Regions from separate parts of the Homo sapiens genome. Here all the other regions are linked to region 3. Evidence: fine-mapped expression QTL. A gene starts in region 3. Each other region holds a variant in brackets. All regions are shown on one strand. Distances are from middle to middle. Region 1 overlaps CASP4 (caspase 4). Region 2 overlaps LOC105369468 (a long non-coding RNA gene). Region 3 holds the start of CASP4 (caspase 4). Region 4 overlaps LOC105369468 (a long non-coding RNA gene).

Evidence for each region. PIP is the estimated chance that this variant, and not a neighbour inherited with it, causes the effect. A credible set is the group of variants that fine-mapping cannot tell apart.
Region 1: its variant is the best candidate, but not a certain one, in a credible set for the expression of CASP4 in skeletal muscle (GTEx, PIP 0.73).
Region 2: its variant is the best candidate, but not a certain one, in a credible set for the expression of CASP4 in whole blood (TOPMed, PIP 0.52).
Region 4: its variant is the best candidate, but not a certain one, in a credible set for the expression of CASP4 in whole blood (INTERVAL, PIP 0.75).

The regions. Positions count from the first base shown.
Region 1 is chr11:104,939,900-104,947,411 of GRCh38, forward strand. CASP4 (caspase 4) reads right to left here. Exons shown (of 9, transcript NM_001225.4): 7 at 7,184-7,293; 8 at 4,849-4,952; 9 at 2,967-3,074. The coding sequence ends at 4,854. Among named protein-coding and RNA genes, the nearest start is that of CASP4, 25 kb to the right of the region's middle. The variant C/A (reference allele first, on the strand shown) is at 4,619.
Region 2 is chr11:105,220,991-105,228,834 of GRCh38, forward strand. The region is part of intron 4 of LOC105369468 (a long non-coding RNA gene); the gene reads right to left. Among named protein-coding and RNA genes, the nearest start is that of CARD18, 85 kb to the left of the region's middle. The variant G/A (reference allele first, on the strand shown) is at 3,640.
Region 3 is chr11:104,965,778-104,973,173 of GRCh38, forward strand. It overlaps CASP4 (caspase 4), which reads right to left and starts at 2,797. Exons shown (of 9, transcript NM_001225.4): 1 at 2,742-2,797. The coding sequence starts at 2,748. It overlaps LOC124902813 (a long non-coding RNA gene), which reads left to right. Exons shown (of 2, transcript XR_007062986.1): 1 at 1-2,383; 2 at 2,508-2,803. RefSeq lists an enhancer at 2,597-3,796.
Region 4 is chr11:105,189,258-105,197,101 of GRCh38, forward strand. The region is part of intron 4 of LOC105369468 (a long non-coding RNA gene); the gene reads right to left. It also overlaps the pseudogene OR2AL1P. Among named protein-coding and RNA genes, the nearest start is that of CARD18, 53 kb to the left of the region's middle. The variant A/G (reference allele first, on the strand shown) is at 3,865.

The DNA of each region.
Region 1 (7,512 bases), 26 kb before region 3:
TTTACACAGTGGAATGTGGAGCTAGGTGTAATATTGGAGTCATAGATAACTAAATTGGAGTTTCTGATAGTCATCTGGAAAGGAGGAGTAAAAAGTAGTGAAAGAAAAGAAAGAGACAGAAACCAGCAAGACTGATGTTGAGAAAACAGTGGACCGACAAAGGGCTGCAAAGACAGAGGCAAAAGTCATGCAGAAGGCTGGGATCAAATGATTTTAAAGAACAATTCCATCTAATATTAAAGTCTACTAATTACACTGAAGCTAGAAATGTTTGGGTCTTTTGTGTGGTATCATCGTTTTTGATCATGGAAAAAGTTAATTCTACCTTAGGATATGGTCAGCACAATGTGGAACCAGTCTGTCTCCTGAGGGAGGGCATCTCATTATAGACAATATGTAATTTAACTATATGAGCAGAGCCAAGACCTTCAGGCCATAGGTGACCAAGAGAATGCAAGTCCCAGGAAACTGCCAAACATGGTGAATGAAAAGATTCAAATGACTTTTATTTAAACCTTGATAAGGAAGTTAACTGAGTTAAGTTACAAAGTAGAAATATCTTTAATGATAGCAGTTGTTTAACACCTTCTTTATTCTGGACTATGCTAAATATTTTGCCTATATTAACTCATTACATCCTTAGAACAATGATATTTATATTCACATCTATTAGTAAGGAACTCAAAGAAAGCCCAGAGAAGCTAAATAAATGAAATTAATTTACCAAGTACTAAGTGGCTGTGTCAGTCTATAAAAGCAAGGATCTTACACCAAAGCTTACATTTACAATTATTCAGATATATTCTGTTTTATGTACTTCATACTTCTAGGTAAAACCCACTTTAAGGTAGGACCCAAATGTGCCTTGCTTGTTTTTCTGCTTCTCTGCCCTCTGCTTCCACTATTCTATAAATACTTGATGTCTGGGCAAATTGGACTGCTGAATGATCCCAACATTGCAGACCTTTTCTATGTGGAGTCAAATTCTAATGTACTCCAGCATAGATCATTTTCCACTGAATTCTCTATTATTGCTCACAGTTTAAGGAAAATATTTTGTACTATAGAGGAATTCAATGATTACTAATTCAGTGTATATATATTATATATACACTCATAGGTTACTCTATTATATATACTCTCATAGATTTAATAATCTATGAGAATTACCCATAGCCCTCCCACCCTGGGTTTATCCTATGTAATTAATACCAAGGAAGATGGGATTCAAACAATGCTATTTTTTTAGAAGCACTGTTACCTAGGAAGGGAGAATACACTGCTTGAGAGTCTTCTGTGTTAAGGTAACTTCCAAATAGTGAACCTAAAGAAAGATGGACATTGAAAAAGCCTCACCTTCTCTGGAGAACTTTACCCCAATGTGTTGGATACTCTTTACTGAATTTTTTTTCCACATGCTTGACTGATTGATAATAAGTCCTGTTAAAGATGTAAGTCACCTGAAACCATGCACATCACTTGGGAAACAAGAGGGTCTTCACATGAATGACTAGACAGTTATTTAACAACTAAGGCAGAATAGATGAGTATCTGTGAGTGACACCTTTGGTCTCTGCTTTGTATGGTGAAAGTGGAATCAAGACATCATCAGATATAGAATTAATAATTTTCTTGACATGTGTATGTCAAGGTGGCTCCTGAGGCATCACAGGTGTGTGAAAGTAAAGTTGCCTAACTCAGTTTGATGAACCATATGGGGGAGAAAAAGACGTATATGCTTGGACCCCTAGTTTTGCTAAGATTTATCACAGTAGAAAAGTGGTTAACTGTCTTATATGAAAAATGAAATATAGCTCATTCACACTGCCAGATCTCTCTCTTGTTCTACATAATATTTGATGGTGGTGAGATTTCCGATTATTTCCTTGATTCATTTTGAAATAATAAGTAATATACTTTACTCTCATTTCTTCTTTCATCAGTTTTGCACAGTAGCTTAATTCTCTTCTGTGTAAGTTGATCAGAGTTTCCCGGGTGCAATTTACTCCATCTTTTCTCACCTCCAGTTATCCCTTTTGTCCCCAATGTCTTATTGTGGTAAAAATACATACCACAAAATTGACCATCTTAACATTTTTAAATGTAGTGTTTGATACTAAATCCATTCATAAAGTCATATAAGTGTCACCCCCATTTACCTTCAGAATTCCTCTTTGTCTGGCAAAGCTCAAATTCTATATCATTAACTAATAACTCCCCATTTCCTCCTCCCCACAGTCCCTGGCCATCACCATTCTACATTCTGTCTCTATGAATTTTATACCCTAGGTACCTCATGTAAGTGAAATCATGCAGTATGTGTTTTTCTATTGCTGCCTTATTTCACATAGCATAATGTCAAGGTTCATCCATATTGTAACAAATGTCAGAACTTCCTTCTCGTTAAAGGCTGAATAAAATTCCATTATGTGTATACACCACATTTTGCTTATCCATTTATCAGTTATCAGATAGTTCCACATTTTAGATATTGTGAACAATGCTGCTATAAATGTGGGTGTATAAATATATCTTTGAGACCCTGCTTTCAATTACTTTAGTTATGTACCCATAGGTGGAGTTTCTGGAGCATATGGTAAGTCTACTTCTAATTTTATGAGGCAATACCATACTGTTTTCCAAGGTGGCTGTACCATTTGAAATTCTCACCAATAGAGCACAGGATTCCAATTATTCTACATCCCTTCAAACCCTTGTTATTTTCTGTTTTTTGGGGCTTTTTTTGATGGGAGTCATTCAAATGGGTATGAGGCAGTATCTCACTATAGTTTTCGGCAACATCTTTCATCCTATTGTTGGGGATAAATCAGTCAGTTTTCTTCATCAGCCAAGTATAGATATTTCATGAGCCATAAAGCTCGAAAATCCAGTTAGCTTCCTCCACTTCATTTCCACTCACCCACCATTTTCATTGAGATTATATTCTCTATTAGAAAAAGACACAGTTCGTTTGTCTTCACTTTTATTGAAATACAAAATGTTAAATATGCAAGCTGTACTAATGAAGGTGCTCCTTGAAGTTGATTAAGGAGGGCTGGGCTGCTTGTGGCTTCCTGCAGGGGAGAGAAAAAACAGAAGGTCAAGATGGTTACCCCTTGCTGCCTTCATCCCATCCCTCATCATGATTCTTCTTGCATCCTCTTCCATGTGCTCTTGCCACTTCCCTTGACTTCCATCTGTGACATCTTAGTCTATTCACCAAAATGTGATCTTTGTAAAACCTAATTTAAAGCATATTACTTCTTTTTTCTAAAGCACTAGAAAGGCTTCCTGTCTCGCTCAGATAATAATTTTTAAAGGTTTACCATGTGATAACATAGAACCACGCGATCTGGCTTCTCACTGCTTCTCCTAATTTGTCTCTGCCATTTTCTCCACTCACGTTCTCTTTTGGTCACACTGTCTCATTGCAGTTCTTTAAACATGTTTAGTGCATTGCTATCCCAGGGCATTTGCACTGGCTGTATTCTGTGCTGGAACACTTTTCCTGCATAAGAACCACATTATTCACTCCCCAACTCTGTCCATTCTTTGTTCTGATTTCATTATTTCAAGAAAAGCTTTTGAGTGAAATATCTATAGGAGTACAGCATCCATCATTCTGTGTTTTCCTTTGTCTTCCTTTATTTTTCCTTTTATCTTTTTTTGCTCTCCGGCCTGTGATATATTTACCACTTTATGTCTTCAGAGTCTGTTTCTACTCACTAGAATATAAGCTTTCAGAGTGTAAGAAATCTATTTACGTTGTTAATTGGCATATTCCAAGCATCTAGAACAAAACCTGGTGCACAGTTAGTGTTGGCAAATATTAGTCAACAAACAATTCAATGTCCAAATGCAGCCCCACTGGATGGATTAGGCACTGAAAGCTGTTATGCTGAAATGATGCAATATTGTGACTGAAGTGTCAGAAACCAAGAGTAAAAATTATGTGGTAAATGTTGGAAGTATTGAGAACAACTTTATACATTTCACTATAAAATATAATTTTAAGTATGTATCTTAGAGGGAGATTGATAATAGTCTTATAGTCTAGTGTTAAATAAAGCTATTATGAGTGAAGAAAGTCATCATTTAGTCCAGACTCAATGTACCCATTCTATAATATTTTGGTCAAAATAATAACAAAAGTTACATGGGAGCTTGAAGGAACTTCTGGACTGTGATTGAAGATTCAAAAGCCAACCCTGAGTGATTGGTGATCTGCATTGTGAGAACAGTCTGAGAACCAGAGCCTGGATCAACACAAACTCTACAGTGTAGGATGTATTCTGTACCATCTGGTAATGGTATCTGGATGTCAGTAATGTGGTATTTGCTGTGACATCCTCACTCAGAGGATCAAAATGCTGCTTTCTCCAGAGTTAGCTCCTTTGTTTACTCTGTTTTGTTTAGGGTTTGATGCAATGTTTGGCTACTTAGTGTCTCTCTCTCTCTCTCTCTCTCTCTGTGTGTGTGTGTGTGTGTGTGTGTGTAAGAAAGGGGAATAAAAGAGAAAGACTATGAGAGATAAATGAATATAAATAGTAATGGAAGCATGAGCATGTTTCTATTTTAATAATTACTATCCTTGGTTTTTCATCATCACATTCTGCTG[C/A]GGTTTTCCTTACCTCCTTGATTGATTGATTGATTGCCTGATTAATTGTAGAGTTGGAGGAATCCAAATACATGTAAGTCGGAAAGAAGTAGCAGATAATCACCAGACTATATCAACAAAAACACCAATTTGACCATCCAAGTACTCAGCTGTCATTTGTCATTGAACTTAACCACCAATATCACTCTCTTATTTATTTCACATACCACCAACAACTCTCAATACTTAACCATTTTCAATTGCCAGGAAAGAGGTAGAAATATCTTGTCATGGACAGTCGTTCTATGGTGGGCATTTGAGCTTTGGCCCTTGGAGTTTCAAATGATTGCTGTACCTGAAAAAGAAAATAGGCTGTAGATGAGATACGACTCTTTTCAAGTCTCAGAAAGCATCTTTCACCATGTACCAGACAACACCTGGAATGAAGTGAGCTTGCAGGTTTCATAGAACCAAGCCCATGGGCATTCTAACTCCTCAACATTGTACCCTACCTCTTAGAATTGCCACTCCATGTCAGACTGTATGCTTTACATCAAAATAAACACCTCATGTCTAATCCAAGGTCTTTCAACATTCATTTCCTCTATTTTCCATTTCTGACCTACAGATCTGACAATAAGTTATCCCTTGAAAACTATTCATGAAAACCAGATAAGGAAGGACTCTGTACTTTCAACACTCACCAAGGCTGATTCCTCAATTGAAGGAGAATTTAATCCCAGTATCTTATCTTTCTTTTTTTTTTTTTTTTTTAAGATGGAGTCTTGCACTGTTGCCTAGGCTGGAGTGCAATGGTGCAACCTCGGCTCACTGCAACCTCCGCCTCCAGAGTTCAAGCAATTCTCCTGCCTCAGCCTCCCAAGTAGCTGAGGTTACAGGTGCCCACCACCACGCCTAGCTAATTGGTTTTTTGTATTTTTAGTAGAGACGTGGTTTCACTATGTTGTCCAGGCTGGTCTCAAACTCCTGACCTCATGATCCTCCTGCCTCTGCCTCCCAAAGTGCTGGGATTACAGGCGTGAGCCACCGTGCCCAGCCCCAGTATCTTATCTTTAAGACCCAAACACTGAACAACTTTCATATCTCCACCACCAAGCTGATCTTGTAGTTTTTTTGCATCAACTAATTGGTAAGTCTACTTATCCTAAATCCAGAATTTTTAGTTCCTTTTTCTATGAACATCCTTGAAAGTACAATGTCTAACTCCCACTTATCCAAGAAGATTTAAAAGATTTAACTTCCCAGATCTCTATTCACAGGAGCTCTGTCTCAATTTATGCTGCATTTCCTCCTCCTTCTCCTCCTCCTTCTTCTTATTTCACTACTTTTCTTTCTTTTTCTTTTTTTAAGACAGGGTCTTACTCTGTCATCCAGGCTAGAGGGTAGTGGTGAAATCTCAGCTCATTGCAACCTCCGCTTCCTGAGCTCAAGCGATTCTCCCATCTCAGCTCTCAGGTAGCTCGGATTACAGGTTCCAGTCAATATGCCCGGCTAATTTTTGTATTTTTTGTAGAGATGGGTTTTGCCATGTTGCCCAGGTTGGCCTCAAATTCCTGGGTTCAAGCCACTCCACCCTCCTTCGGACTCCCAGAGTGCTGGGATTACAGGAATGAGTGACTGTGCTGGTTCTGGATGGCTTTCTTCTATAAACGCCAGAGGTGTATCTTTCTTTTCCCGCAGGAGTTTTACTGTTCTCTACAATTTTTACTTTATTAATAATTATACTATTCTGTGTTAATACCAATCCCATTTTCTCTTTAAACAAGAGGGTGCATTTATCTGTGTATTTATGCATGTATTTATTCAATAATTATTAATTGAATATCTGCTACGTGCCAGGTTTGTTGAATTGCTGAGCAAATCCCTGCCATCACGAAGTTTGCATGTTAGTGAGTAAATACAAGTAAAAAACCAGACACATAAATAAACTATTAATATTTGCTGAGTGGGTAGATGTACGAGCTATGGAGAAAAATAACATAGGAAGTAGTGGGAATAAGGAATGTCCCAAGTTGGGCAAGAAGTAGCAAACCTTTCCTTCTGCACTTTTTTATTGAAAGAATGACTTCTTTTTTGTTCCCTCTCACATGTCTTTATGGATCCTATCACAATCTGTAAGCACATATTTGTTTGTTAACCCACATTTTCAGTATCCATATCTCCCACGAAAATGTGAGTCCTAGATAGGATTACGTCATGTAGGCCTCATTTACCCCTCTGTCACCAGGAGGAAATCCATGACCTAGCAGACCACCCAGATTTTATTCATTTAATAAATTAAGAAATAAAAATTATTTCAAAATATTTTTCCTTCTCTAAAACTTAAGAACTTACGCTCCATAACATAAAGCTTATGGTTGATATTATTTTATTTTACTTTGATCTTCTGCTGGGATATATTGGAATTGTCTTTTCCTTAGCCATATTTTAAACAACTGAATGACAGAAACTGGGTACCTCTCTACTTTCACTTCCCTGACAAAAATTGTCATTGTGAAGTAAAAAGTGAATCATGACAAATTCTTCCTGAAGAAATAAATGAGTAACTAGAAAAGAGACACTTACCTTCCGAAATACTTCCTCTAGGTGGCAGCACCAAGAATATTTCTGGAAGCATGTGATGAGTTGTGTGATGAAGATAGAGCCCATTGTGCTGTCTCTCCAGGACACGTTGTCTATAATGATACAGATGGGTATGCCTTGGGCTATGACTTTCACTATGTTTTTGTTCATATTTTTGTTTTGAGAATGTTTTTAAAAAGAAAAGCATAGCTTGGGAATTATCTTTACAGATTTGTAGGAAGCACTTACAACCTGACATTTACCTACTTTCCACAGAACGTAAACAGAAAACCTAGCAAAAGGTGATCAAAAGTTGCAGTTGGTAAGCATTG
Region 2 (7,844 bases), 260 kb after region 3:
GTTGTCAAACATATATTATCTTATTTAGTGCTCATAAAAACAAATTAAATTTGAAGGCACTACTATTATATTCATTTATGGAAGAGAGAATGAAGGTAAGAAAGATTGCTCAAACTGGTCTTTTGTATGGCAGAGAGGATTTAGCAGTACATTGTCAACTCCCCCACTGGAGTCCCTGGCTTCCTGATCTGCTCACAGTTATTATAATTTCCATTTCAGTTTGAAATACCTGTGAATATATTGTTTATTAGTATGAATACTGCTTATTGGGTATGATAATTATAAAGTATAGGCTCATTTCAGAATTATTTCATAGTTCACTTCCATGAATAACCAAGATTTTGAAATAATAAAAAAAAAAAAAACCACTAACAACTAAAGCACATGTTGATGGGAGGATAGGGAGGGTTATGAGAGAGTTCCAGAAAAGAAATTCACCTAAAGTAAAAAATTTACTACAACAGCAGCAAAATATTTTAAGAGAGGGAGCCCTGAGGTCAAGGGCTATTGGAAATCCCTGCAAAAATTAGACAATGTAAGACAGTCCCCATTCCAGGTGAGAAGTTGCAGTTTACTAGTTATCAGCTCAAGTGTCTGAGATGCTCCCTGATATCAGGTCTTCCACAAACAGAAGAGCCTTGCTCATGGTGGACCACTGTGAAAATTGGAGAATAGAGGACCCAGTGTATCCAACTCATGTGCTCAAGCCATGTGGACTTGCCACAGCATCACCTTGGGAATACTTGCAATTTAGGAATCAAAAGAAACAATCTTAACCTCTTTTCTTATCTTTTAATTTTATTGTAGATTTTTTTTTTTGTAAAAGGGAGTTTTTTAAAATATATTTAAGCCATGTTTCTAAGCTTCTGGACTTTGTTTCCTGTTTTAAAAAATTATTTTGCCCCTTTAAAAACTATCAAAAATGTAAATTACTCTTGTTTTTGTCTAGTAGTTTTTGGCCTCTTGTTTTGCCAGTATTTTTTCATCTGGAGTCTATTTTTATCTTTGAACAAAAATAGAGATTCAGTATTATTTTTCCTCTGAAATGGCTAATTGTCACGAAATGATTTATTGAATAATCTGTCTTTTCCCCATAGAGGTTAAGTGCCAGTTTTATCATATGCTCAATCTCTATATGATTCTATTTCTGTATTATCTATTCTGTTTCATTGGGTATTAACCTATTACTGGTTGATAGCCTGCTGCTTTTATTATTGTAGCTTTATTATTTATTTAAATATCTGGGAGAGCTAGTCTCTTATATTTAGCCAAAAATATTCTGAAAAAGAAGACTTTTTACAAGATTGTGTTTTGCATTTGAACTCCACAACGACTTTCTCTGATTCTTAAAAATCCTGACATATTTTATTAAATGGTGCTGTCCATTATATTAAAGCTTAAGAACCTGTTCAGCTTGTTTCTGTTTATTTGTATCCTTCCTGTGGATAAATCATATCATATCTTTGTTATAAAGTTGTATTATGCTCTTTTAAAATATACATTAACCTCCCCCATTCTCAGTGTAATAAACACCATTTATTTTACTTAGTATTAAATATATGTGGCTGGCTGAGGAGATCAGTTATCTATCTTTCCCATTCCTGGGCAGTAAATAAGGAAGAAAAATGGGTTTTTGTTTGATACGTAGCAAGTTATTGGTTTGTAACATGCGAATGACGGCTGGTATAAAGATAAGCTTTTAAGTAAATGCATGTGTAACATATATGCATGTTTAAGGGGATTTGAAATCTATGGTAGCCACTCAAAGAGTCTGAGCCCATCTACCCTCGATACTTGGCTTAGTCAGGAGTAAAGAAATCATTGTGATTTTGACTTTATCAAGACTCAAAATTTAGCCTGGCATGATGGCACACAACCATAATACTAGGACTTGGGAGGTTGAGGTGGGAGGATCGCTTGAGCCCAGGAATTCAAGGTCACAGTGAGCTATGATCACACCACTGCCCTCCAGCCTGGACAAGAGAGTAAGAACCCATCTCTTAAGAAAAATAATATACTAACGAAATAAAAATGTATAAGACTCATAAAACCTAGGGGTAATATAAGAGTGAAAAATTAAAAATGAGTAACTCAGAGAGATTATTGTGCCTAAGTACTTGTACTGAAAAAGAGATAACGTACTATTTAAATATATGTATATATATATATACATATACATACATACACACATTACTATATTACAAATGTAACAATATTTTTTGTCATGTAAAACAATGCTGTGGACTCCATTTGGGGCACCTGTTCAGGTTACAACCTTTCCTCTTTTAATTCTCACCATACCCACAGGGAAAATGCAGTTGATAGAACCGTGGTGGAAATCTGACCTAAACTGGGCCAGTAAGAATACCTTCCTAGGACTTCTAAACTTAAGAGTAGAAAGAAAGAAATTTTCTCTGAGTTATTTTATACGTAAAACATGAGCTCATAAGCTCAGGAGCCTCTTTCTACCTGCCACATGAAACACAGAAACAGGTCATGATGGTAGTCTCATAAAGATAAATTGAGTGGAACAGAAGGAGCCAGGAAGCAATGAGGAGAATCCAGGTGGCTTCATAAGTCTCTGAAGTGTAGCTGCCTGATCTTGAGCTCTATGAGACATATCTGAGTTTTTTTTCACTAAGCCCTTCTCTCTCCTTTTATTTGGCTTAAATTAGCTATGATTTGGGATTCAGAGAGTCTTTGAGACACCTAGGAAGTAGTTCAATTAATAGTCCTTCAGATTTGGATGCAAATCTCAAGCCTGTGATTTGGACAAATTGCCTAACTTCTGTAATATTTTTTGTGGGTCTTCAACAGTAAAACTAGGATTAAACCCTACCTCAAAACTGATAAAAAGGACTACAGTGTGTCTTGTGTGTTGAGGTAGGCTCCTACAAACCTTCAGGAGCCAGCTACTAACTTATCAAACATTTCACCAGCTTGTTGTTAATCCTGTTAATAGCTTGAAATTGGCTGTGGTGGGAGTGTTTACAACCACATAAATTGGCTAAAATACATTTTTTTTTTTGTTTTTAAAGGCTGTTCACCAGCACAGAACTAATTATAATAATAGATGTAAAGGGCTTACCCACTACCTGATCCATCATAAACACTCAATAAAGTGATATTATTATTAAAAAATTATTGTGTAGATTCTGAATCAATGAACCTATGCAATCTAATTGTATTATGAGAATATACAACAAGTGTCATTAGCAAATAGAGAAACTATGTTCATCATAGTTTATTCAAACTGCAAAGAAGGGTGTTAGTATGTCTTCCAAGCAGCAGACAACAAGAAGGAATTAAAAATGCATGGACCATATTAGGAAAATTGTCTGGATGACAAAATTGTCAGGAATTCAGGAAGACTGGGTGAGCTATCAGACCAGGGTGCAAAAAGAACTGCATCTCCATGACTGAAGGAGAAAGAGAGAAAGCCTGGGCAGGTGTTTTCAAAATCTTCCCAGCCTGCCAGATCTTCCAAGAAAGGTTTGACAAAGCCAATGGTTGGCACTCAAAGGGCCCCTGCTTTCCCCAGAGTGAGTCTGCCTTAGTATTCTTGCAGCAGTAGGTACTGGCCAGAAGCAGCCTAGGCACGGTCTTCAATTCAAGGCAGGACAAATTGAATTTTGGAAT[G/A]CAGCAGTTGTGGGCTATTGCTGCTGGCTGATACCTCCTGCTCTGGGACATCAGCCAGGCACATTCTCACAGCTGCTGCAAGGAGTAGCAATTTTCAGGTATGTTAGCTTTGCAGATCCTGCAGTTGTTCTCCACTTTAGCGTGCTTAAAAAATGACAGATTATTGGGTCCCTGTCCATTAATTGGTACTTGAAACATGGACCTCAGGTATTTCTGATACCATAAAATAGTGAAAACAAAATAAAAAACATCAAACCCCACATTTTCAATTTTTCTTAAATATACAAGGTTATTGTAATCACCTTCTCTCCTTAGGGGATCATAACATGTATGCCTGTTAAATAATAAGACTGATGGCTAAGAGCCATACAGAAAGACACAAACAAAAACAAAAACCTGGCTCATTATTTGACGTCACTGCATTCTTGGGGCTGAGTGTTCTCCATCTGTGTCTAAACACGTTTATCCCAACTTTATTTTTACAGCCTATATCAAGATAGTATTCCCACTGGCTTAGCTCCTGTCATGCCCCCCTCCCCCCAACAGCTTCTTTCTTTTCAGTGATCTTGTTTTGTTACTTCTTTCATTATTTTGATGTTGACACCATTTATTTTGCCCACATCTCTCTTGCCCAAAGAATTGTTCCTTTGTTTTTTTATTTTAAATTCCATCAACCTATTCAAATTTATAAAAACAAACAAACATCTTGCAATTATCTCCTTAGTGGTCTTTGATTTCAAGATTTTTATTTTCTCTAGTTCATCACACAGAAGGGTGTCCTTAATGTGTAAACTGGATCACCTAAGTTTCTTACTCAATAACTTTCCCTATTTAAAAAAATCAACTCTATGCTGCCATTCTAGACTTCTTATATTCTACTTGATATACATCATCCCACATTTCCTAAAGCATAGCCTATAAGAAATTGTTTATATAATAAGGGTCATTAATGGCTTGTGGTCAAGGAAATTTGTAAAATGATGAGTTGAAGGAAAGTTAACATCTGAATATATTTAAGGCTCCAGATATTTTAATATGCTAATGAGCAAGCAAATATCTAGGAGGGGTATGCTATACCACGTTTCTAGACTAGTGGTCTAAAGAAAATGCTTTTTAAAAAGGCAATATGACTTTATCTTCTGCCATTTCCCACAAGAACCAGATCCTTCAAATGCACCTCCTTGGCACACTCTGACACACTATCATGTCTGAATTTTTGCTAGGCTGTTCCATCATTCTGATTTGTTTTTTCTTTAATATAATATTGATTAGGAACCAGGAGATGAAGTCTGTGAAATGTCATAGGCTCAGTCAGGCTCTCTCCCCTCTTTATATTGCTGGGTTCGGTAACTTTGAGAAGCATTTTGCAAATTGTCAGCCAACAATAACATGAACTTGATTCTTTATTGACCATTTTATTGATAGTCTATGAGCGTTGCCTCTTGATTCTATTACATTTGGCACTTTTTGAATTGGTTCATTGGTTAAATCTTGTCTCCCTTACAAGACTATGCATATTTCAAAAACAGCTTTGTAATTTATTAATGTTCTTTACAGTACTCAGCAGAATGTAATGTGTTATGTATAATGTGGGGTTTGTTGAATTGAAAAGTAGCCAGGAGGGAGAGTCTGGGAAGATTCAGGAGGCAGGAATGGAGCAAAAAAGCTCAGTAGTTAAGAATGAGGGAAATGGATGCAAAGTCTAACTAAGCAGAAAAAGAGAACCTAAACAGAATGACATGTCCAAAGTTTGCAATGGATCACATCAATGTCTTTTTAATGTTGTTACTTGTCCAACTTTACTTTGCATTGCATTGCATTGTGAAATCTTTCACTGTTACAGATATTGTAATTGGCTACTAATTGTAGCCCTTGGAAAATAGGCTTCTGTCTATAATAGCCCAAAATACTTCAAGCCAGCAGAGCCTCCTAAAGTTCCAAAGCCTATCACACTTGAATTTCTCTCAGACTGAGAGACTCTGACTGTACATCCACACAAATACACAGTTTGTGTTTTTAATATATCATAAAAAAGGTACAATCTCTCTCCATTTATAGGAGTAGTGAACTATTGGGCCTGGGGATGTGTAGAGAGTAAAGGGAGACTACTAAGATGAAACAAAGGAGTTTTAAACTGAGAATCTGTATGTGAAAGAAAAAGGCTAACACATACTTGACCAAATGTATTTTGTTTTTGAAGATGGAAACTAGAAATTATTGCAGCTTCAATGTGTTATCCCCATAATAGCTCAGCTGATAGCACCAGCGTCTATGTGATAAGAGCTTCAAAGAAAGGTGAAGCAAATGTCACTTAGAATGACTCGTAAGTGAGGAGTTCTGCAAAACTGACAGTTCTAAAAGCAGTGAAGGGTCAATTTTGTGTACTTTAGCTCACTTGATTCAAGAGGCTAACTCTCCAGTACAGAGGCTGATAGATAACCTTCAAAAGTTTCCTTTGAGAAAAAAACAAACACTGTTTAATTTGTGGACCAGAGTAGACTCTATCTGGAATAAACTCACATGAACTAAGTAAAATGCTGAAGATAGGATGATATTAGGAATATAGTATTTGACAGAAAACTCGGAATTACCCAGTTTCTGTCTTCTTCTAATCACTCATTCCAAAGATACATTTAAATCCATCCATGGGGCACAATCTGTGGTGGAAGAGAGAGAGAATGAATGTGAGTAAGGGCCTGGAGGCCAGCTACAGCTCCTGGGGGCTGTGGGCCATCCTGTCAACCTATTAGCTCTGTTCACAAAGAAAGTGTTTAATGAGCTGGGCTAAACCATTGGCAGAACTCCTTTTGCCTAAGTTGTACATGGTTTGAGCCATCAAAAGTGGGTTGAAAGGCCATTCATTCCTGAGGCCTCACCTTAATTTTGACCTCCACCACTCTCAGCATGTGTTTTTCAGTACAGCTCTATGTATGTTCCTCCTGGTAAGGGAGAGTCTACATTCAGGAAGTATGACCACATCAGTACCACTGACCTCAATCAATAGATGGGAGAACTCCAGACAGTGCTGTAAAGCCCTTTGCTCCAGAGCCTTCCTTGTGCATGAAACAAGGAGGGGAGCAGGGAAAAAGGGCATCACTGATCTCCTTTCCTATGGAGGGCAGCAGTAGATAAACATGAAGTGTGATTTTATTGAAACAGTTCTTAAAATAATCAAGTTATTTTCTTATACAATTACTGTAAACAATTGAAGCAAATTATAACCACCAATTTAAGCTATTTATTTAAAGACTTACCATATTTTTCTATCCATATAAAATAGCCCTGTATATGAATCTCTAAGGTAGCCAATGGTTTTTTTATTATATACAAATTATTTCTTCTATAAAGGGAGAGAGAGAGAGAAGTAAAAGAAGTGGAAAAATACCTGGGAGAATTAAGTTTAATTAGTATCTTAAACGTTATGCTGTTTAGGATAAAATAGAATCTTTGAATAAGTGTCAAACTGTAAAATGGAGCCCCTTAGGTGTTTGGCTGGTTCTAATTCACACAAATGGGATGCCAAGGGCATCTGGATATCATCCAATATGAGCCCAAGGCCCTCAACAATACTATGACCTCAACAGTATTGTAACTCTCTTGAAGAAGAGGGTGAACTCGCACTGTTGCTCGCTTGTGCCTCCATTTCTCCTCAAAGAGAATTAAACCTGTTAAAGTATTTAAACTGGCCCAATATATGTCCTCTGGGCCCTTTATGGTGCCTAGCAACGTCTAGGGCTCAAGTTTATTCAGGACTCAAAGAACTTTCTATGGAGGCTCGCTTTAGTTCTTAAATGAAATTTTGTTACTTCAACCTAATCAGAAATTGCCTCTCCTATCTCTGGACCTTAGGCAGGACTTTCGGGTTGTTTCATAGATATAAAAATGATAGCAGCTAACATTTAAGGTTGACCTACTATATGCCAAACTCTTTAACTACAGCAAATCATTTAAACCTTACAACAATACCTTATAGTAATTACCATGATAATTGTTAGTACCAGTTGTATAAAATGGTTAAAGAACTTGCAAAAGTCATAAAGTTTACACAGCTAGGTGGGGGAAGAGGCAGGGTTTGAACCCACTGTGTGTGCTTAGCTCTTAAGCACAATAGCCTCACAGATGGGGCAAACCATGGCAAATCAGTGGATCAATCATTTCTTTTGGACACTGCTCAGAAGAGGACGCAGCTCAGAAGAAGGCTATGG
Region 3 (7,396 bases):
TCCTAGAATTGGAATGTCCCCATTGTGCTCCCAGGGATAATATCACTTTATAAAATCTAATATCAGCACTTAAGATATTTTTCAGACGCTGCACTCAATGGATCAGCTGACACCACCCAAACCAGTAATCTAACCCAACCAGTTCTGCCATCACACCCAGGAAGAGAACACAGCAAGAAAACCTCACTTTGACACCCTATGATTCCATCTCCCACCTGAGTAATCAGCACTTCCTACTTCCCAAGCCCCTAGCTGCCAAATTATCTTTAAACGTTCTTATTTCTGAATGCTCGGGGAGACTGATTTAAGTAATAATAACACTACCCTCTCCAGAACAGCCGGATCTGCGTGAATTACTCTTACGCCATTGCAATTCCCCTGTCTTGATAAATTGGCTCTGTCTAAGCAGTGGGCAAGGTGAACCCACCTGGTGATTACAAATTCTTAATAGCAAACCAGGTAAGTTTGATTTCATTTAATAGATGATAGTTGCATGTTGGATATTTCAACAGAAGGAAGGCATGTTCATTCCCCTATCCATTCAGGTATATTTAATGAGCATAAATTCTTGAAACTTACTCTGCTGTTATTGGGGGTACCACTTTGGCAGCATGTCTGTACACTTTGAAGTTTGCAGTCAAGTGGAAAAATACATATGCAAATAAGTAAAATGAAAAATATTATAAGAATGTAAATAATTAGCAGAAGCTCAAGAAAAGCATAAGCAAAGTGTGTCTCAGGTACAGCTGTCCAGAGAAGGGAGGGCTTGGCACTGAGACCTGAAGGACTGGTAGGAATTTGTCCCCTGGAAAACTAGGAGCTGGTCTTTTGGCAGAGAGCAGTAAGGAAAAAAGCACAAAGGCTTGAGGGTGTCTCGTGTAACCAGAAAACTGGGAGAGCTGGGCTTTAGAAGGAATAGAAATGTGAGGCCAGGACTGAAGTGGCAGTGATCAGAGACAGGGCAAGTATTTGAAGATGTTTGCAGAAAGTTAGATTAATGGCAGAGTTTGAGAGTCATGCCAACCTGAGACCACTCCTCTCAACAGACTTTTGACCTAAAGCATATTTTGGAGGCATTCTCTAAGTATCCCCTTCAACTACAATATGGAAATAATAGCACAACTGTATTGATTGATGTTAAATATTAAATCAGAGAGAGTGCATGAATTAGCTATCATATGGTAAGTATTTTTTAAAGAAATGGTTACTATAGATTATTTTTTGTTATTATAATAATCACTGAATGAAAGCTGCAGTGATAATAAAAATGGCAGGAATCAATTAGAGGAAAAAACTTATCAGGACCACAGTTTTGGTTCCAGGCAAAGTGATGTAATGCTTAAACACATTACAGGATACAATTCCTCAAGAGTTTAAGGTAATAATAGCTGTCTACATTTGGTTGTTTATAATTATCAAACCACGACTTGTTTTTGACTAGTGGCTTTCAATTTACCCTATCTTTATCTAATGATCCCTTGATTCCAGAGCTTAAGTTAAATGTTGTGAAGTTAGACATAAACCCCGGAGAGAATTGTTCTATAGGGAGAATCAAAGGAGTAAAGAAACAACAACAAGGTAATATGAGTGAAGTAAATACAGTATTTTTTTATGAAGTTGAAATCATGCTTTACAAAGATTAATGGAAAAACTGGATACACATGTTTCAAAAGGTAGAAAAAATTGTCTGAAAGTTCAGATAGTAAAAAAGAGAAAAGGCAATAGGGAGCCACTGTATGTCCCTGAGCAAAGTTAATTACATTAATAGATCACTAGCAGATAAGCAGAGAGTGTTAACTAACTGGTCAACTTTCCTAATAGAACAAACCTATGTCAAGTCAGTTTCATAAGAATTATGTGACGATCTTCAAAGGTAATAAATGCCTGCAGGGTATTTAAGATTGAGCTATTCGCGGTGAGGAAGGGGGTAGTCATCTGACTTTTTTTATATGACTACAGATTGCTGCGATATGTTATAAGGTTTAGAATTCACTGATCTAGTCCAATTTCTTCCTTTTCCTGTGAGGAGAATGAAGCCAAAGAAGCGTTATGACCTGCTGGAATACTAGCTGCCTAAGTAACTCTATCCCTTAGGCTTTTTCAGCTTCTGTGTATAAGACAGGTGACCTAAAAGTTGTGTGCAGAATGGATTGGAGAGTTAAGTCCTGGAGGGAAGGATACCAGTTAAAAACAATAACAACGGCAAAACAAAACAACTGTGATATTAACCCATGAAATATTATATTAAAGTAGTCAGTATCAGGACCAACGAGAAAGAGGAAAAAATTGAATCACTTTAAACAGACCAAGAATGTAATTCACAATAAGAGATGTCGAAGAAGATAACAATTCAGAGGCTCTCAGATCTGATTCTGCGAAAAAGGTTTGTGATCTGGGCAATTAATTTGGAATCAAAAGAAAGATTTCAGAGTGCATTTCGAAACTTCTAGAATTGTCTCACACAAATAACTTCCTCTGGCTTTCTTTACCCTCCCTTTGATTACCAGAAGCTGAAAGAAAGGAATTAACTTCTTTCTGGCTCAAAGACATCTGGAAAACATATGACCTCCGTCAATATCTCTAACACCAGGTCCCATGATTCAAACTACACACAATCAGTAAGAAAAGGAATTCAACATGTGTGCTATCGGCTCACTTCCTTTCTTGTGTTTATTTCAGAGCAATAAATCAAGTGTTTTCTAAGTTCCTACTCCCAAACTCCTAGTCAGAAAAGGACTCACCTGCCATAGGGAACAGCCTCTGTCCTTTTTTACAGCGTTGGAAAGAGCCTCAGAGTCAAAAATGAAAGTAAACTATGTATTTCCTTATTGCAAAGGGCGGAAACGTGTAATTACAGATTGTGAAACTGCTGCTCAGAATTCCAGACTCATTATCAGGAAGTGCCTTGTCATCAGCAAATTGGCATCCAATTACTGGAATTTAGTTTCTGACTTGGGGGAAAAAAATGAAAATGACAAAATATTATCCTGTGGGTTGACACCTCAGCTTGTTTCTTTTCTTGTTTCCTGTGGCCACCCAAACTTCTTCTATCCATCTGTCTCTTCTCTTCCTGATCTCTCAGTTTTTCTTTCTCTGATTACAAAGAACGACAATGACTGAAGAAGTTTAATCTAACAACTCTTTTTCATTTCCTGATAAGAATTAACCCAATAGTTCATATTTCCAGCTTTTTGGGCAGGCACTGAGCTGCAGGAGTTTTTACATAGTCCAGCAGCTCCCGGAACTCTAGTGAGGCAGGAGTCCCGTCCACTCCCATGGAAAGGGGGCTGAAGCCAGGGAGCAAAATGGCCTTGCAGCAGGTCCATTCTCACAGAAGCCTGCAAGCTTAGATCCGCTGGATTAGAATCCCCACTAGCCAGCATAGCAGCCTGGAGTACGCCAGAGATGACCGAGTTCCCCAGGGGAGGGGCGACTGCCATTACTGCAGCTCTAGTCAGCGGTTTTTCCCTACCAGTGCTAGGGAGGCTGGGCAGATTGGACTGGGCAGCAGTCTTCACAGTGCAGCACAGCCGCTGTGGCAGATCATGGCCAGACTGCTTCTTTAGGTGGGACCGGGATCCATCCCTCCTCTCCCGGCAAGAAATGCTTGCAGGAATTTCAGCAACTCCACCTAGAGTTTACAGACAGAGCTCTCATTTCCCTGGTACAGAGCACCTGCGGAGAGGGGCAGCTGCGGTCTCAGGTTCAGCCAACTTAATCTTTCCTGCCTGCTGGCTCTGAAGAGTATCAGCGATCCAGACAAGGGGGATTCCCCCAGCCCAGTGCACCATCTCTGCTAAGGGATAGCCAGACTCTTTCCTTAAGTGAGTTCCTGATCCTGGGCCTCCTGACTGGGTTAGACCATTCAACAGGGGTTGCCAGACACCTCATACAGGAGAGTTCCAACAGGCGTCAGGTCAGTGATCCTCTGGGAAGAAGCTTCCGGAGGAAGGAGGAGGCAGCACTCTTTGCTGTTCTGCAGCCTCCATTGGTGATACATAGGTGAACAGTGTCTGGAGTAGATCCTCAGCACACTGCAGCAGACCTGCAGAGGAAGGGCCTGAATGTTGGAAGAAAAACAAAAAAAAATAAAACAACAATAACACAGCATCAACAAAAAAGACCCTACAAAAATCCCATCCAAAGGTCAACAGCTTTAAAGATTAAAGGTAGATAAATCCACAAAGATGACGAAAAACCAACGCAAAACCGCTGAAAATTCCAAAAGCTGGAATGCCTTTTCTCCTCAAATGATTTCAACACTTCTCCAGCAAGGGCACAAAACAGGGCTGAAGCTGAGATGGATGAACTGACAGAAGTAGGTATCAGAAAGTGTGTAATGACAAACTTTGCTGAGCTAAAGGATTATATTCTAACCCAAGGCAAAGAAGCTAAGAACCGTGATAAAAGATTACAGGAACTGTTAATTAGAATAACCAGTTTAGAGAGGAATACAAATGACATGATGGAGCTGAGAAACACAGCGTGAGAGCTTCATGATTCAAACACAAGTATCAATAGCCAAATCAACCAGGCAGAAGAAAGAGTATCAGAGCTTGAAGACTATCTTGCTAAAATAAGGCAGGTAGAAAAGATTACAGAAAAAAATAAAAAGCAATGAACAATACCTTCCAGAACTATGGGACTATGTAAAAAGACCAAACCTATGACTGATTGAAGTACCTGAAAGAGATGTGGAGAATGGAGCCAAGTCAAAAAACACACTTCAGGATATCATCCAGGAGAACATCCCCAACCTAGCAAGACAGGTCAACATTCAAATTCAGGAAATTCAGACAGTCCCAGTAAGATACTCCACAAGAAGATCAATCCCAAGACACATAATCGTCAGATTCTCCAAGGTTGAAATGAAAGGAAAAAATGTTAAGGGCAGCCAGAGAGAGAGGCCAGGTCACCTACAGAGGGAAGCCCATCAGACTAGCAGTGGAATTCTCAGCAGAAATCCTACAAGCCAGAAAAGACTGGAGACCAATATTCAACATTAATAAAGAAAATAATTTCCAACCCAGAATTTAATGTCTGGCCAAACTAAGCTTCATAAGTGAAGGAGAAATAAAATCCTTTTCAGACAAGCAAATGCTGAGGGATTTTGTCACCACCAGGCTTGCCTTGAAAGACATCCTGTAGGAAACAGTAGTCATGGAAAGGAAAATCTGTTAGCAGCCACTATAAAAACACACTAAAATACACAGGCCCATGACACTATGAAGCAACTACATTAACAAGTCTGCAAAATTAACCAGGCAACATCATGATGACAGAATCAAATTCACACATACCAATATTAACCTTAAAATAAATGGGCCAAATTCCCCAATTAAAAGACACACAATGGCAAGCTGGACAAAAAGACAGGACTCATCAGTGTGCTGTATTCAAGAGACACTGTTGGTGAGAATGTAAATTAGGTCAATGATTGTGGAAGAGTGTGTGGTGAGTCATTTAGAACAGAAATACCATTTGACCAAGAAATACCATTACTGGGTATACACCCAGAAGAATATAAATCATTCTATTATAAAGATACATTACATACATGCATATGTTCATTGCAGCACTATTCACAATAGCAAAGACATGAAATCAATCAAAATGCCCATCAATGGTAGGCTGGATAGAGAAAATGTGACACATATACACCATGGAATACAATGCAGCCATAAAAATGAATGAGATCATGTCCTTTGCAAGGACAAGAATGAAGCTGGAAGATGTTATCCGCAGCAGACTAATGCAGGAACAGAAAACCAAACACTGCATGTTCTCACTTATAAGTGGGAGCTGAACAATAAGAACACATGGACTCAGGGAAGGGAACAACACACATGGAGGCCAGATAAGAGGATGGGGGATGCGAGAGAGCATTAAGGAAAAGAGATAATGCATGCTTGGCTTAATAACTAGGTGATGGGTTGATCTGTGCAGCAAACCACCATGGCACACGTTTACCTATGTAACAAACTGCGCATCCTGCACATGTATTCCAGAACTTAAAAAAATATTAAAATAAAATGGCAGTATGAAGCTTAACATTGAAGGATTGCAAGAGGTCAGAAATTCGCCTTCACTTTTAATGAGTTTGGGATTAGAAAAGGCTCATGATTGCAACTGAATTTGTAGTTCTTCCAGTTCTTCAAAATCTTCACATCACTGAGTGACTGATTTAACCCCAAACTATTTCCCCTGCACAACACAAGTGCATAATTTTGCATTCAGTGCACTGTAGTGTTTCTTCAGCATCTCATACTCTGTCTGCTATTTCTTTTATGTTTGTTGACTGTTATACATTCTTAAGGAGGCTGTGAAATATTAGGGATATATGGTTGAATTATTTATTTTTTCAAAGCTGTGAAAATACAATAAAGAACACATTTTGGTCACTTTATTAAATGACATTAAATAGTTTAAGTTTAAACTACTAAACAGCACTTTTAATGGTGAAAACACAGGTAGTATATTGTCATACTTGAATGCTTTTCTTTAGAAACACAATTCCAGTCCTTATATATATTACAAGACAGCCTTAAAGGAAGAAGTGACATCTTTTCTACAGTACTTAAGATACTCAATACAGAAATGAAAAGCGGTCTAACAGAAACAAAGACAAAGAGTGGTTTTTATCTCAGAAGAAAAGTAATGGTAGATTTAAAGCAGGCAGAAAAGATAATAGGACCTAGGAACTCTATAGTTTGTGGTTCAACCTTTGGGCTCTTTCTTCTTAATGTAAATGTGCACAAAGATGATTTACTTCCATTTCACATAAACTCTGGTGTTGTGGGAAGTCAGGGACCCTGAACAGAGGGACCGGCTAAAGCCATGGCAGAAGAACATAAATTGTGAAGATTTCATGGACACTTATTAGTTCCCCAAATTAATACTTTTATAATTTCTTATGCCTGTCTTTACTGCAATCTCTGAACATAAATTGTGGAGATTTCATGGACACTTATCACTTCCCCAATCAATATTCTTGTGATTTCCTATGCCTGTCTTTACTTTAATCTCTTCATCCCATCATCTTTGTAAGCTGAGGGTGTATGTCGCCTTAGGACCCTGTGATAATTGCGTTAACTGCACAAATTGTTTAAACAATATGAAATCTGGGCACCTTGAAAAAAGAACAAGATAAGAGCGACGTTCAGGGAACAAGGGAGATAACCATTAGGTCTGGCTGCCTGAGAGCTGGGCGGAACAGAGCCGTATTTCTCTTCTTTCAAAAGCAAATAGGAGAAATATTGCTGAATTCTTTTTCTCAGCAAGGAACAGAATGCGTTCCTAGGGGGAGGTCTCTAAAATGGCTGCTCTAGGGATGTCTGTCTTTTACGGTTGTCATAAGGAATGAAATAAGCCCCGGTCTCCTATAGTGCTCCCAGGC
Region 4 (7,844 bases), 220 kb after region 3:
TACCCCTGAATTTAAAGTTGAAAAAAAATCTGAAAGGTTTAAAAAAATAAGGTATAAAAATACACCCACTGAAATATAAGACAGTATCAAGTTTACAGAAATCTACAAGTGTGTTTTTATCCACTAGGGTTAAGCTGGAAGAATTTGGGGAGATGAGAGTATTTGGGGAGATAATGGCTAGTAATGATGGCTCTTGCATCCTACTCTAAGCAGTGTGGTCTTTAAAGTAAAAGTAGCAGTTAGCACTGAAGCATTTATGCTAGAACAACTAAATTCCCAAATTTAAATCTTAGATAGTTCATTCTGAAAGCATTAATTGAGGTGGTTTCAAAGAGAAAGAGATAATATCAGATAAACCTAAAAGGTTGAGCTGAAGTAATAGGCTCAAGTGAGAAGTAAAATCTGAAGTAAATCAAAAATTAAGTTGTAAATAATCTAGTGGACATGATAAATAAGAGAGAAAGGGGAAACTCTTGAGTAATTTCCTTTTCTGAAATACTTGAATTACTGAATACAGTCATCTACTAAATTGCGACACCCACGGGAAAAAAACATGCATGCTGTAGGTGATGATGAGTTTGTTATTAGCTTTACTTTGAGATTATTTTAGGACATCCAAATTAAGCTGTTTGCAGGATTGAAATATCTGCACATTAGAGGGGCATATGTGTCTGAAGATCAGGAATTCAGTCAGGGATAGAGATTCAGATTGTGGGTCACCATGATGCAATTGGTAGTGAAAATAATCAGAGAAATAGAATAACTCATTATGTAGGATAAGATTAGGATCGAATAAAATCAGAATCTCAGTGGACACCAAGACTGGCAGGAAGGCAAAAAAACACTAGAGTACAAGGAGATTGAGAACAATTTGAGACTAAGAAAGGGTCAGAGAATGGGAGGTTCTTAAAGACAGAGAAGTCAGGGAGTGACATTTTTTAAGTGATTTGTGGTCATCAAGATCAATGTCACTGGAAGGATTACATTGTTTCTGGCACAACAGTGGTTATTGGTGACTTCACAAGAGCACTTTTAATAGAATACAACAAATATAAAATATATTACTGGAAACTAAGTGAAGATTTTCAATTTTATAAATGGTGCATAGGCAACAGGCATTTCTGGTCTCTCTGAAAACCCAACTAAAGTGACATTAAGTTATTTTTGAATATATATAAGCAAAAAATCAAAGAAAACAGATTTTAGTACATAAAATGTTATTTTTGGAATATAGAAAGCATACAGATGAATAGTAACTGAGTGTATACATGAAAAATCCAGAACATGACAGCTTGGGTAATGACAATTTAAAAAAATCATGATTTATGGTACAGAACCATGGAAAGTGTCAAAAATTGGAGTCGCAAATTATCTCTGAAAGCCAGAGTGTGAAGTGGGACAGAAAACAAAAGATTTGTTGAAAGTGTCTTTAGGAGCAGGTAGCTGCCCTGATGTTCTCCCCAAGTCCAACAAACTAGTCAATTGCCCTTTCTTGAGCTCTGCAGGAAAAAAAAAAAAAAAAAAGGATTATTCTCTGAAGATGTTGAATTACAGAGACTGTGAATTGGAGACATCTTGACCAGCTAAGGTCAAAGATGAGGCACCCCCCTGGACACATGGAACCAGGCGATCGAGGGTGTACTGAATGGAGGTCCTCTTGCCCCCATGGCTGCCTGCCTCCCACTACTCTGGCCTCTATGCTTTTCTGTTGTTGGCAGATGACTGGAGGATTTCTTTCTGAGGAAACTGCCCTGTAGAATAGAGAACTACAAATTCCCCGCAACGTGAAGTTTACCTACACAACAATCCTGCCCATGTACCCCTAAACCTAAAATAAAAGGTAAAAAAAAAACAACAAAAACCTTGTACCCTACCTAAATACAAATTCATGATTAAACAAGCCATTACCACATACATAAATCTTCCTATTAGAATGTTAGGACCTACTTATTTTGATTGGACAGCCAAGGATCACCAGGTATTTGAGAAGCTCCTTAAAAACAAAACACAAAAAAATGCACATGAAAATCCAAAGATAGAAAAAAGAACAAATAAAAACATCAGAGATCATATGGGGAATAAAAAACACTCATATAAAATTATAATTCTCATCTTCAAATCTAAAAATACTATATTACATTTATGATATGAGAGTATTCAGAGAATACAAATTTTTAGAAATGTGAAATCTTTTGACAAAAATAAAAACAAATGATTGAAATGTTGAAAAGCAATGAATAGAAAATTTTGCAGGTGAAAAAAATAATTTTAAAATAATAGAATTCTAAAAGGTTAACAACAACAACAACAACAAAAGCTCAGTCTAACAGGCCAACTAATGAGTTCCACTGAGAGAGACAATGATGGGGAGGATATTATGAAAGCATCACTTAAGAAATTTTTCCAGAATAGAAGGATAAGATTTTCCACAAAAAAAAAGGGTCCACTGAGTATCCACAATGTGACTCAGATTCATCAATACTCATGACTACTCTTCATAACTATACAATTTCAGGACATTTGGGAAAAGTCCTAAGAGCATCTGGAAAGGAAAAAAATGGGTTACATACAAAGGGCTTATACAAAGGAATAAAAATGACTTCTTACTTCTAACAAGCAACACTGGAAACTAAAAAAGAACTGAACAATGGATTCAGTTTCTGAGGGAAAGTCTTTTCTCTCCTGGAAGTCTATGAATCTCACTGCAAACTAAATGCAAGGATAAAAATATTTTCAAACATGCAAGGGCTTAAATTAACTTTCTCTGTGCACCTTTTTCTGTGTTACAGAGTATCTATAGAACATTGTTGAAGTATATATTTCATAAAAAACGAAGGAATAGATTTAGGAAGGACCCAGGAATCAGGGCATTTAACACAAAAGGGTGTAAAGAGGAGACTAGAGAAAAATCCAGTTTAGACTGGAACAAGAGGAGTAAAGATTTCAGGAGAGATATTTCAAACACACACATGTACACACACACACTGGTTTCTTTGTAGTCAAATACATAAAGTAATTTATCAGTTCTTCTTGTGTGCATATGTGTGAGTGTATAAGGTAGTGCAGGGATGTGAAAAAGAGCCATATCCTCATTCTTCAAGCTAAGAAACCAAAAGATATTATCTAAAAATACTTAAAACCACTAAGTAGCAGTGAAAACTCAGTATTTAAAATATGCAGTTTAAATGTATAGTCTATGGGAAATTACATTGGAATATTCAAAATTCAATTAATGACATGAGACATCTAAAGTTTTTTACACATTAAAAAAGGTAAAGCATATATATTAAATATCTCAAAGTACAACAGAAATTTTCAAAAAAATATACTGGAATGAAAAGAAAATGTCTACGTAATAATTTTCACCAAACCATAATATCAACAAATGCTGAAAATAATAATTCTTATAAATGATATATTATTTCCCATATTTCAGGAAGCTTAATCCACTTTATTTCCTGGAAACTCCTTTCTCTTTCACTCTTCACTGTCAGTTCTCTTCAGAGGCAGATATTGCTAAACGTACACCAATATGTGTTCTCTAATTTTTCTGTATCAATAGAAGTTCTGATTTTTATGTAGGCATATGGCTTTCCAGGATATATGGTAAATTTACCATCATTGTTTGTCACTACGTTTGGATCAATAGACTTTAAAGAGAAGGGCCTTGTGACAGTTTCTCTTATGTGTCCATTTGATGGGGTCATGAAGTGAGCAGATATTCGATTAAACATGATTCTGGGCGTGTCTGTGAGGATATTTCTGGATGGCTGAGATTAACATCTGAATCTGTAGACTGAGTAAAGTAGATTGCTCCTGCTCCTGTCCTCCACCAATGTGAGCAAAGCTCATCCCATCTGTTAA[A/G]TAAAGGTCTGGATAGAGCAAAATTCTAGGCAACAAAGAATTCACTCTCTCTGTCTCATGGTCTTTGAACTGGGTTATCAGTACTCTCTTGCCTTAAGATTCAGTCTGACACATATACCTTTGGCTGTCCTGGTTCTCAGGTATTTTGAGCTGCAGTTCTTCGTACTTCCCAGCCTTCATAATAGTGTGAGCCAATGCCTTATACTCTGTGTGTGTGTGTGTGTGTGTGTGTGTATATATATAATATAAAATATAAATTTATCTTTTTTAATATTTTAAAATATACATATTATATATTATATACATAAAATACAGATGTAATATATACCATATATTAAAATATAATATTTTAATACTTTAAAATGTATAAATTTAATATTTTAAAATGTATTGAATATTTTATATTTAAATTTATATGTTATATATAGATATACAAAATTTAAAAATATATAAAATTTGTTCCTCATAGAAGTACAGGGACAAATCTTTCAAAAGAAGGGTTTGACCTTCTTGGCCAGACGCAGTGGCTCACACCTGTAATCCCAGCACTGTGAGAGGCTGAGGCGGGTGGATCACGAGGTCAAGAGATCGAGACCATCCTGGCCAACACAGTGAAACCCCATCTCCACTAAAAATTAAAAAAAAAAATTAGCTGGGCATGGTGGTGCGTGCCTATAGCCCCAGCTACTAGGGAGGCTGAGGCAGAGAATCACTTAAACCCGGGAAGCGGAGGTGGCGGTGAGCTGAGATTGTTCCGCTGCACTCCAGCCTGGGTGACAGAGCGAGACTCTATCTCAAAAAAAAAAAAAAAAAGAAAAAAAAAGAAGCAGTTGACCTTCTTTATACTGAATGAGTGTGAAGGATGGAGCTCAAGCAGAATCTTGATCTATTTTGGGGAAATCAAAGGCCAAGATAAGTTAAAAGGAACCAGTAAAGGCACCTCAAGTGGCTTATCATTCAGACCACCTATCTTTGAAATTCTTTTTATGAGGGAGATAAATAAATTTTTATTTTACTTAAGTTAATATTATTTTTTATTTTTGTTTTGCCCCTCATAATTTAACCTCATTCTAAATGATGAATTTCCTAAAATAGTCTCATAAAAATGCATGTTTTTGATACTTGGTTTAATTGAACAAGATCACATGCTTTCAGATTCTCCAATGCTGTGCTTTTCTTAACATGTTCTTTTCAATCTCCTGGAAGCAGTCATTTTATAATGGAAAAGATAATGTTAATAAAGCTGCATGATTCAGTGAGAACACAGACTGTTTCTTTCTGTTAATGAACCATCTTTATACTAACAATGATGTAAATATAAAGATGTAAGCATAATAGTGATGTCCACACAGGGTTACCCAGAAGGTAAAAAAGGAATCAAATGCTGAGTTGGTAAAGCTACTTACCCAAAAAGCCACAGCCATAACAACAGTATAAGGCAAGTGTCTGTGTCCAGCTGCATCACAGTCCTGGACATCACCACCAGTAGAGCGCAATCCATGGTTCCCAGTGTGAGAACAAAATAAATTTGAATCATACCACTGGCATAAGAGATGTTCTTCTGTGGGCCCCAGAGATTGTACTGTAATTAAAAGATGGAACTGATGGTGTAGCAGAAATCCAGAAAAGAGAATAAGTACCGAGAGTGTGGGGATGGGAGTCCAGGTATGACAGAATGATGCTGAACAGCTTGCCTATCAGTGTCATGAAGCAGAATATCAAGAGAACTACAAAAATAACTATTTCCAGAGGAGGTCAATTAGAAAGACCCAGTAGAATAAAGTAATTTTCAAGACTTATGTTGATATTTCCCATTATTATTCATTTTCTGTCACCTGAGCAAAAAAAATCATATACATTCAAAAGAAAAAAAAAGTAAGAAAATGCTCCAAAAATCACAGAGAATCATGGAAAATAAACAAGTCATTTTGAAGGGTCTACTATTGTTCAATTCTAGGATAATTTGAACATTGAGAAAAACTGTGATAGTAATGAATTTAACAAACAAAGAATCATAAAAGCACATACCAATATAAAAAATAAAAGAATAAAGAAATAAATGCTGAAGACAAAGCTATTTCTTAAGTAGAATCCTAAGTAATCCTCACTAGAATGATGGAGTTAGAAAAACAGAAATGGATGTTAAAACTATTGGATGAAAATCTGATAAGGAAAAGAATATTTACACAGTTTAAAATATCTCTCCACAAACTACTTAGTTCCATAATGAAAAATAGTAAACTTTACAGTAGAAAACAGATCATTTGATATCATGATCGATATTAACCTCACCAATGTTGTAATAGACCAATATCATATGCTTGCTGATATGATGCTCTGAACAGGACATAATATCACTTCAATGTTATTCCTGCTGAAAGTGCACAGCCTAATTCTAATAACAAGGAAACATGGAACAGACTCAAACTGAAAAAAGTTTAACAAATAAGCTCGCCTGTACACTTCAAATACATCAAGGCCAACGAAGACAAAAAAGCTGAGGAACTAGACTAGATTAAAGGAGATCAATGAAACATTATATCTGCACTAGTCTGTTTTCACGTTGCTGATAAAGGCATGCCCAGGATCTGGTAATTTATAAAGCAAAAAAGGTTTAATGGACTCACAGTGCCACATGGCTAGGGCGGCCTCACAATCATGGTGGAAAGCAAAAGGCATGTCTTACATGGCGTCAGACAAGACAGAATGAGAGCTAAGTGAAAGGAGAAACCCCTTATAAAATCATCAAATCTCGTGAGACTTATTCATTACCACAAGAACAGTATGGGAGAAACCACCTCATGATTCAATTATCTCCCAGTGGGTCCCTTCCACAACCCATGAGAATTATGGGCTTTACAATTCAAGATGAGATTTGGGTGGGGAAACAGCCAACCCATATCAATATCTAAATGTGTGATCCTGAATTCAGGAAAAAAAAAACAGATATTAACAACATTATTAAGAAAATTGGAAAAATCAGAATGTAGACTATGGATTTAGATAATAATATTGTATCCATATAAAATTTGCTGATTTTGGTAACTATACAGTGGTCCGTAAAATAACGTTCTTGTTTTTAGGAAATAAACACTGGTATATTCAGGAAGAAAGGAAAAATGATATAGGCACAAATTAATGATGATTTACAACTAGCTTTTTTTCCTCAAAAAAATAGTTGGCATATGTCTGTGTTTGCATGTGTATTTATGTAAGATAGCCAACAATCACAGCATGAAATGGAGTAGAAAAAAATCACATTTTATACTTAAAACTATTTCTTAAAAAAATCACCAACTTTGTATATGAGCCAATTACATTAATGATTGAGCCTGTCTCCAAATCGTGCAAATTACGTAATAAATAAGCATCATGTGAAAACATTCATAATGGTCACCGGACTAAATAAAAGGAATCTTATAGCATGATAGTTTAGACACTAGGATCTTGAATCAAGTAGCCTAGATCCAAATCTCAAAAATGCCAACTCAACTGGGAGCTACTGTCTCAATATCTGTAAGTGTATTTTCACATATATAAAATGGGACTAATAACAGTATCCACCACAAGCTCAGTCATCTGGGTTAGGAAAGGTCATTTGTATACATAGCTTAGCACAATGCATGGAATATGATGGACAGCTAATCAATGATATCACAGTATATGTGGCAGATGTTTACATAGGCGCTAAGTGTTCTGTGCGAGAAAGGTTGGCAGTGACGGCTAATATTTTTTAAAGTAGGTAGCTGAAACCTGTGAACTTTAAAATCTGACTTGCTCAGCTTCCCAAAAATCCCAAAAGTCTATGTGACACGTTCCTACAAATTCACAAGAGAAATCCTCCTGGAGGCCAACAGATATAGAAAGGGAAGGGGCAATAAAATGGAATTGTTAAGACCACTTGGGCAGCCAGATGCCTTTTCTTTAAGAGATGGGGCTGGGGAGCACTGAGCGGTGGCCCATCACATGATATTCACCTG